2 linked regions of the Homo sapiens genome follow. The protein of the gene in region 1 purifies or fractionates together with the protein of each later gene. This does not show direct contact. Each region holds a gene or a part of one and is shown on either strand. Other genes may lie near its edges.

Region 1 (5,508 bases):
GCCGAGACAGTTCCTCCACGCGGCGGGACACCGCTATGCAAAATGGGAAACGGAGTCAGTGAACCCCAGTGTCAACACCCTGCAGTTCCCAGGGGCTTCTGCATGCGGAATTCAGCTTTTCATGAGCTTGGGCAGGAGGCTGAATTGGAAGAACTGTGGGCAGAGACAACTGGGGGCCAGACACCCTGCAGAGAGAAGATTTGCTGTCCCTGATTTAGGGACAATGGGCTCAGAGGCTTGAAGGTCCTTTCTCGGACACCGGATGGGAGTGGCAGGGCTGGAACAGCAGCCCAGCACCGTGGCTCCTCAACGGGGCTCAATACAGATCCAGGGACCCACAGGCTGGGAAAATGGGTTTTGTTCTGAAGTTAGTACAAGCCTGGGGTTTCCAGGGGCCTAGTGATGACTGTAGGTCTAAAGTCAAGAACAGCACAGGAGAGAACTGGACTGTTATTCTCCTCTATGGGGAACTCTCGAAGTGTCTCATTTGAAGGTATCTATGATACCTCAATACCAAATTCCTCTCAAGAAAAGCATGGAAATCATTGTGGAAGGGAAAGCAAAGGGTCTTTTTGTAAATTCTTGCCCCGATTTGGCCCTATCCTAGAGAGTGTTCCCCATGCCCCTCACCCCCAGGACCAGTCTCAGCTCTAGCTCCTCAGGGGACAGACTCCAGTGGGGAGGACAGAGGCTCCGAGGAGATGGGGCAAGGGAGGCCAGAAGTATCTAGATGGGGCGGGGCAGGTTCCCTGGAGGCCGGCAGCCGGGGGCAGGGGTCTCAGCAGGCACGGGCTCCACCTACCGGGCACTGTGATGGTGAGGGTGGTGTCCTCAAGGAACCGCTCGGTCCAGTACACAGAGGGCCTGGAATAAGCGGACGGCTCAGGGCAAGGGAGGCAGAGAGCCCTGGCCCTGCCCGGAAACAAGCCTGGGTCTCTGCCAGGAGGGTGGCCGAGGTGGGGTGTGGAGTTGCTGGGAGAGGGGGTAGGCCAGAGAAGGACAGTGGGGGGGCCGGCGGGACGCGTGGATTATTGTGAGCAAGGCTGATGTCCAGAGAAGGAGGTAGCTGGGGGAGAAGCATAGCTAAGAAGAGGGCCCAGGGCCACCTCCTGGGAGCAGACCCAGGTCACAAGGGTGGAGAGCCCCACATCTGAGGAGCCCTCCCTGATCCTCCTCCCTGGAGAGAGGAGGGTGGCTGGAGTGAAGGGGTCCCCTGGAACCTGACACGTGTCCCCCAGCATAGGCACACGGCGGAGACAGCCCTGGACTTACCAGCAGAGACAGAAGTGCAAGCTCATCTTACATGGGGAGATCCAGGCATACCCCTTACCACAGCGTCCCTTCCTGCGAGGAGACAGGGTCCGAGCCCCACTGCCTCTTGCCCTGGGTCTCCCGTTTGCTCCCAAACTCCTCACTCTCCTTTGGCCACCGCCCAGAGGGCCACCGTTCCCTAGCCACTCCCAGTGTCTGGCCACCTCCTTAACTGGCCAACCCCACCTACCCTAAGTTTGCTGGATGTGGTGGCAGCTGGGGGAGGGGAGCCGAGCAGTGGGGACAGGAGGAGCCCGGGAAGGGTGCAGAGAAAGCCGCCCACGCTGCCCCTACGAGGCCGTGGTCTGGCGTGTCCTCACCTGTCTTTCAGGACTTGCCAGTTTATCTTGGGCTCTGCCAGCTCCATGAGCCTCCTCCGCCTCCTCCTCTTCCTTGCTTTGGTCATGGTGGTGCTGGGGAGCTTCTGGCTGATGGACAGCCGGCTTTGGGAGAATTCCACGTTGAAGTTGGAGCTGCTTTCCCGCCCCGATGCGTTTGGGAGCCCAGAGAAGCGTGGGTCTTGCTCAAGCGCCTTTTGTCTGCACTCACCCTGCCCACCCGCCTCTCCTTTCCCTCGAGGGGTCTCTGAGGGAGGACTTTGGCACCACGAAGGCCTGGACCAACCGCAGCTCCACTGCTCGCTGGATGGAAGACCCGTCCAGGTCACCTGTCTCCCCTGGTCCTCAGCTTCCTCCTCTGTGAATTGGAGGTGAGACCAGCTCCCACCTGGCGGGGCTGTTTTGGTGAGTACTAAGGTAGTGTTTACTCATCTCACAGACATCTGTCAAGTGCTTACTGTATGCCAGGCCCCAGAGGGGCAACCACCCTCTAAAGAGAGCGGCTCCTGCCTCCCAGAAAGCTCACAGACTGTGGGAGGGAAACAGGCAGCAGGTGAAGATGCCAAATGCCAGGATATCTGCCCTGTCCTTGCTTGATGCAGCTGCTGGCTCCCACGTTCTCCCCAGAATCCCCTCACACTCCTGCTGTTTTCTCTGCAGGTTGGCAGAGCCCCATGAGGGCAGGGCAGCCACTTTGTTCTTGGGCGGCAAACCTCCCTGGGCGGCACGGAAACCACGGTGAGAAGGGGGCAGGTCGGGCACGTGCAGGGACCACGCTGCAGGGAGGACGGGAGCCGAGTCCCAGAGGTATGTAGAGTGCGCGCCTTGCTGGGGACACTCCAGCAACTGCCCAAAATCAGCGCCCCCAGTGCTGATTGGCCGAAGCGTCAGTTCACCCAGAACGTGTTCCTCCCGACCATTTAAAACCTTTTAGCCACGTGTGGTGCTTAGAATGGTTTCAACTTTTGAGTTGGGAGGCTTTTTTTTTCCCATTTCTTATTCTCTCTGTCTGACTTGAGGCCATCACTCGCTAAACTCTGAACTCTGGGCACCTGAACTCAGTCTGCCTGACTCCAAACTCAGCGCTGTTTACTCCTCCTCCTGCCACCAGATAGGGGAGCGTCTGCTGGTGTCTGCCTCAGGGCCCAGTGAGGGGTGCTGGCCGCCAACCGACCAAGCCCACACCTAGGCTGACTCGGCAGGGCCGGGCCCCTCGGGAGCAGCGAGCCAGGCCGGTGGCCGGTTACGACCCTTTCGCCCGCCCAGGGGGCTGCTGCCCTCCCCCCACTGCCAGGGGCTGAGCCCTACCCCACCGCACCCAGGCAGGCCCGTTCCCCGGTGCCCACCTGATTTCAGGAATGTCCTCTTCCAAGTCCTTGTCCAGGACTCTCTCCAACTCAGAAAGTGCCTCTTTGGGATCCAGGGTCTCCGGGAACTCCTCCCCGGCCACCTCCTCGGGGGGAAGCTCCTCTTCTGGGTCTTCTGGTCCCAGCTCTGCATTGTCCAGGTCCTGGCGTTCGGGGTCTGTGACCCGCCGGCTCTCGTACACAGAGCTCTGGAGGCCACGGGGGTCGCCGTCCTGCTCCCTTTCCGACCTGCCCGCAGCCTCAGAGCTGGGCTGGTTCCCGAGTGACCTTCGCCTGCTGTCCCCCATACACCGGTCCCTTCCCAGCCCCCGCGGCCTCACTCTCCCGGCACCCAAATGTGTCTGTGGTGGCCGCGGCAACAGGAGAGCGTCCGTCACATTCCCCACGGTCCACATTCTAACCCGTGCGCCGTCTCCAATGCTGGTCACCTGGGCTTGCGCTGGGATCAGGACTCAGTCCTGGTGGTCACGGCTCACTCAGGACCTCCCAGGATTGGTTTAGGAAGGAGACCTGACGGGAACCTGCAGGGGCATCTAGCTATGGATTCCCTCTCTCAAAAGGAGACACAAGGAAGAGACCGCGTCTCCTGTTCCTGTCCCTGTGGGGCCCGTCGGTAATGTCCAGAGCCCAGGCAGCCTTCTTGTGACCATGAGGCCTGCCATCTGAGGGCAGATGAACTGAAAGGTGGGCCTTTGATGTGGCTGTCGAGCCTCTGAACTTAGCAGCCTTGGAATCCACTCTGTGTCCAGGCTTCTTGTTACTTGAAACAGTAAGTTTCCTTAGTACTAAGTCGTTTTGGCTTGGTTTCCAATTCCTAGCAGCTAAAACTGCACCCTAGGTGATACAGACGCTTCCAGCCCCAACCTCTCATGAGAAATAACTTCAAAATAGGCTGTTCCAACCCTCACAACAAAATAATGGTTATAACTGGAGTATTCCCCAGGCTGCTGCCTTCAGGAATTCCTCGTACGTCGCCAAAGGAGCTGAATTTCCAGCCTCTCCCCCTCTGTGCCCCACCCAGCCTCTCCCCCTGTGTGCCCCACCCAGCCTCTCCCCCTCTGTGCCCCACCCAGCCTCTCCCCCTCTGTGCCCCCACCCAGCCTCTCCCCCTCCGTGCCCCACCCAGCCTCTCCCCCTCCGTGCCCCACCCAGCCTCTCCCCCCCCGTGCCTCCACCCAGCCTCTCCCCCTCTGTGCCCCCACCCAGCCTCTCCCCCTCTGTGCCCCACCCAGCCTCTCCCCCTCTGTGCCCCACCCAGCCTCTCCCCCGTGTGCCCCACCCAGCCTCTCCCCCCTGTGCCCCACCCAGCCTCTCCCCCTCTGTGCCCCCACCCAGCCTCTCCCCCTCTGTGCCCCACCCAGCCTCTCCCCCTCTGTGCCCCACCCAGCCTCTCCCCCCTGTGCCCCACCCAGCCTCTCCCCCCTGTGCCCCACCCAGCCTCTCCCCCTCTGTGCCCCCACCCAGCCTCTCCCCCTCTGTGCCCCACCCAGCCTCTCCCCCTCTGTGCCCCACCCAGCCTCTCCCCCCTGTGCCCCACCCAGCCTCTCCCCCTCTGTGCCCCACCCAGCCTCTCCCCCTCTGTGCCCCACCCAGCCTCTCCCCCCCCTGTGCCCCACCCAGCCTCTCCCCCTCTGTGCCCCCACCCAGCCTCTCCCCCCTGTGCCCCACCCAGCCTCTCCCCCTCTGTGCCCCACCCAGCCTCTCCCCCTCTGTGCCCCACCCAGCCTCTCCCCCCTGTGCCCCACCCAGCCTCTCCCCCTCTGTGCCCCACCCAGCCTCTCCCCCTCTGTGCCCCCACCCAGCCTCTCCCCCTCTGTGCCCCCACCCAGCCTCTCCCCCTCTGTGCCCCACCCAGCCTCTCCCCCTCTGTGCCCCACCCAGCCTCTCCCCCTCTGTGCCCCACCCAGCCTCTCCCCCTCTGTGCCCCACCCAGCCTCTCCCCCTCTGTGCTGTGTGCCCCCACCCAGCCTTTCACCCTTCTGTGCTTGGTGGTTTTCTACTCATCATTGAAGACTCAAGCCTGTCGGTCCCCCACGCAGGGAGAGTCCCTGACCATCCCTCCCCTTTCTGGGCTCCCAGGCCTAGGACCCCCACCCCTACCCCCACCCAGTGCTAGCCCACCCCGAGGACTGCTCTGTCCCTCACCCCTGCCACCAGCGTGGGGCCGGCCCTCCGGGCATGGTGACCACTCGGCACGCAAGAGACCCAGTTCATCGACACACACAAAGCCCTCTCCAGCTCCCATCCCATCTCCCTGATGCTCTGCTCCCAGACGCAGCCTCACCACCACCTCTGTCAGGAAAGGGGTCTCTCGGAGGACTCCAGGCAGAAGGGCCCCGGGGAGGATCCGGTCCCATCAAGGAGGCCATGGGAAAATCCCCTTTCTTGGCCGGAAGTCTCGTAAACCCTTACCTTGCACTCAATGATTTACTTTTCTCTCTTAAGTTAAACTGGATCAAGATCTGCGGGTGCCTTTCACAAAGAGATGAGTT
Region 2 (3,683 bases), on another chromosome or scaffold:
GCCATCTCACTGCATCCCAACTCACCTCTCATTTCAGTTGTTTTCTCCCACTCCTATGTCCTCCCAGGTATATCAATTTTTCAGCTGCCTCCCAGAGGACAAGGTCCCCTACGTCAACAGTCCTGGGGAGAAATACAGGATCAAGCAGCTGCTGCACCAGCTGCCCCCACACGACAGTGAGGTGAGGAGAGAGAAGACAGGAAGGGCATGCCAGGCACAGCACACAGCCTGGGCCAATGCAGGGCAGGGTCAGAGGAGGAAAGGTGAGCTGATCTGAGGTGAGTGGTCCAGACAGGCAGGGGTCATCAGGGGACATTCCTTGGCAAAACCACAGCTGGGCCTTGGAAGAAGAGGTGGTTACTTCAGGCAGGAGGCACCATCTATAGAAAGACCTAGAAGTAAACTTTCGGGGCATGGATGAAGTCTGGAAGAGGGGCAGGGACAGGCATCAAGGGAGGAGCCTGGGAGATGCCTTCTCCTCCCAGGCACAGTACTGCACAGCACTGGAAGAGGAGGAAAAGAAAGAGCTCCGAGCCTTTAGCCAGCAGCGGAAGCGGGAGAATCTGGGGCGTGGCATCGTGCGCATCTTCCCGGTGACCATCACTGGGGCCATCTGTGAGGAGGTGAGCCGTGGAGGGCCTCAGCGAGTGAGCAGTGCCTCTGCTCCAAGCCCTGGGGAGCAGGACACATCTTCCAAGCACTGGGAAGATGAGGCCTGCCACTTAAGCCCCAGTGAGGTGTCTCTAGGGTCCCCTCTTGTGGGCGGGGTCTGTTCCTCACATCTCACTGTTGGGCAGGGACTGTCTCTAAGGCAACCCCTGGTGGACAGGGACCTGTCCCATCAATCCCACTGTCGTGTGGGGTTTGTCTGTAAGGAGGCCTTAGTGTGTTTTTCTCCCCGTCTGTGCAGTGGACATGGGGCATGGGCTATCTCTTTGGTCCTCCTGTGGTCAGAACTTGTCCTCAAGAGCTGACCCACAGTGGCAGGGCCTGTCTGCAGGGCCCAGTGGTAAGCAGGGCCTGTCCTTAGATCCTACTGTTAGGTGAGATCTATTGCTAAGGTCCCGGTGGGTGGAGACTATCTCTGTGGTTTCCCCCACTAGGCCTGGCCTGTCTGTCTTCCCCACCCCTGATGAGGGAGGCTTGCCTATAAGGCCACCCACCATGGGTAGGGCCTGTCTCTACGGCTTCCCTCATGAGCAGGGTCAGTCTCTAAGGTACCGCCCAACCCCATCCCTGGTATAGGCAGGGCCTGTGTCAAAGTTACCCCATGGGTGGGGCTGATCACAAAGTTTCACTGTGGGAAAGGCCCAAGTGTAACATACTTTGGCTGACCCCATCCATCTGACCATCTTGGTGACAGTGATGGTAACCATCTTGGTGCTTGTCTCATGGCAGTGCGGAAAGCAGATTGGAGGTGGGGACATCGCAGTGTTTGCCAGCCGTGCAGGCCTGGGTGCCTGCTGGCACCCACAGTGCTTCGTGTGTACCACGTGCCAGGAACTGCTGGTTGACCTCATCTACTTCTACCATGTTGGCAAGGTCTACTGCGGGCGTCACCATGCCGAATGCCTGCGTCCACGCTGCCAAGCCTGTGACGAGGTTTGGGCCTCCCTGCCCAGGGGTGGGAGTTGAGGGTGGGCAGGGCCAGGAGCAGGCTCATCTGACAGCCACAGATGGCCTGCGCCCTCCAGATCATCTTCTCCCCTGAGTGCACGGAGGCTGAGGGCCGCCACTGGCACATGGATCACTTCTGCTGCTTTGAGTGTGAAGCTTCACTAGGAGGGCAGCGCTATGTCATGCGTCAGAGCCGCCCCCACTGCTGCGCCTGCTACGAGGCCCGCCACGCGGAGTACTGTGATGGCTGTGGGGAGCACATCGGTGGGTGAATGCTGTGGGACTGGACAGAGGGATGGATGGACAGCTGGGCCACAGTCCTACCCCACCAGGACTCCTCCTGTCCTCCAGGCCCCATCCTCCATTGTGCCCTGTACTTTGTCCAGCCCCAACACTATAGACCTGTACGCTTGGTTGCAAGTCCCACTCCCAATGTCCCCACTATGCCATGCTTTCTAAACCCCACCTAACACAATGCTAGGCCACCACCACATGTCTACACCCACCTCCAGAGGGTGCTCTAATTCCAGCCCCAGGGCTCGCCCTACTCCTAGCCTCTACCACCCCAAGCTGTGCCCCGTTCTCCTCCACTCTCCTGTATCAGCCTAAGTCAGGCCTAGCTTCTAGCTACACCCTATCCTCTGAGAACCACTCCTTTCTCAACAGGGCCACTCCCCACCTGCTAAGCCCTGCCCCCACCAGCCAGGCCTCCTCTTCAGGCCCAGCTTTCCATTCTCCTTCCACTTGGAGCCACCCCCTAATGTCTAAGCCTGGCCCGAATCTTAGAGTCCAATGCCCACCCCGCTCTGGGAGAGAGCACCCTGGGAAAGAAAGGGAGGAGTGAGAGAGAGGTTCACCAGCCAGTCTCCAGGAGAGAACCAAAACCTGTTTCCTGCTTTCTCCAAAAGGGCCCCATTCTGGAGGAGGGAGGAAGGCACCCAGGGGTGCCCTGCCTCGGATTCCCCACCTCTTCTTGAGAAGGGACTCGTTCACGAGGGGTGGGGTTACGCCTGGGGGTTCTGCCTCAGTTTTTCCCCCTCGTCGTTCCCCACAGGCCTGGACCAAGGCCAGATGGCTTACGAGGGCCAGCACTGGCATGCCTCAGACCGCTGCTTCTGCTGTAGTCGCTGTGGGCGGGCCCTGCTGGGCCGCCCATTCCTGCCACGCCGAGGCCTAATCTTCTGCTCTCGAGCCTGCAGCCTTGGGTCCGAGCCCACAGCTCCAGGGCCGAGCCGCCGCAGCTGGAGTGCCGGCCCTGTCACAGCCCCACTTGCAGCCTCCACAGCCTCTTTCTCTGCTGTGAAGGGGGCATCAGAGACCACCACCAAAGGCACCAGCACAGAGTTAGCGCCAGGTGAGCTAACCCTCTAGCCACACCCAGCCACAGCCCAGTCACCCCTATGTCCTTGCCCCTGCCTCAGCCCTGGCCCTTCCTTCTTGACTAGCCCAGGCCCTTCACCTGCTGTATCCCTGGGCCCCGCCCATTTCTCAGCTCATCCTCCTTCCCCACACCAGTCCAGGCCTGGTTTCCATCCCAAACTACACCCGCCTCATGAACCCTGGTTCCACCCTGTCAATACAGGGCTGGTCCCCTACCTCAACTTGTCTCTGCTTGACCCCAAGTTCCTCTTCCTCTTCTCCAGCCGGTCACCCTTCATCCTCTGCAGTCAGGCCCCACCCCTTTTATTGCAAACCAAATCTACTCCAGCCTATGCCACACCTCTTCCATCCGAAGCCACCCCGGGTGCCCTGGCCACGCCCCCCACACCAGTCCCATCTTGCTCCGTGTTCTTCCTTCCAACCCTCTCAACACCCAGAGCCTGCTCCAGGCCTCACACTTCCCAGACTTCCCACCTCCCTGCCATTCTCCGACCCCTGCCCCCACTTTCCCAGTCTTAGTGGAGGAAAGAAGGCCCTTCCGCAGGCCTCCTCTTAGGAGGGGGCCAGTGGGAGGGCAGATACAAGGAGTCACTCTGTCTCCCCCTTAACAGCTACAGGCCCTGAGGAGCCCTCCCGCTTTCTGAGAGGGGCTCCCCACCGCCACTCCATGCCGGAACTGGGGCTCC

What was found. The genes of interacting proteins can lie anywhere in the genome.
Region 2: the proteins of SPMAP2 (region 1) and PRICKLE3 purify together in Homo sapiens (affinity purification with mass spectrometry; one large-scale study listed by BioGRID and IntAct). This does not show direct contact.

The regions. Positions count from the first base shown.
Region 1 is NC_000019.10:372,668-378,175, forward strand, and holds the start of SPMAP2 (sperm microtubule associated protein 2), read right to left. Parts: upstream 3,360-5,508; 5' UTR 3,304-3,359; coding exon 2,996-3,303; intron 1,755-2,995; coding exon 1,632-1,754; intron 1,345-1,631; coding exon 1,273-1,344; intron 865-1,272; coding exon 803-864; intron 34-802; coding exon 1-33. UniProt on the Homo sapiens protein: May be involved (but not essential) in spermatogenesis.
Region 2 is NC_000023.11:49,176,191-49,179,873, reverse strand, and holds part of PRICKLE3 (prickle planar cell polarity protein 3), read left to right. Parts: intron 1-67; coding exon 68-181; intron 182-485; coding exon 486-623; intron 624-1,398; coding exon 1,399-1,602; intron 1,603-1,694; coding exon 1,695-1,881; intron 1,882-2,671; coding exon 2,672-2,971; intron 2,972-3,608; coding exon 3,609-3,683. UniProt on the Homo sapiens protein: Involved in the planar cell polarity (PCP) pathway that is essential for the polarization of epithelial cells during morphogenetic processes, including gastrulation and neurulation.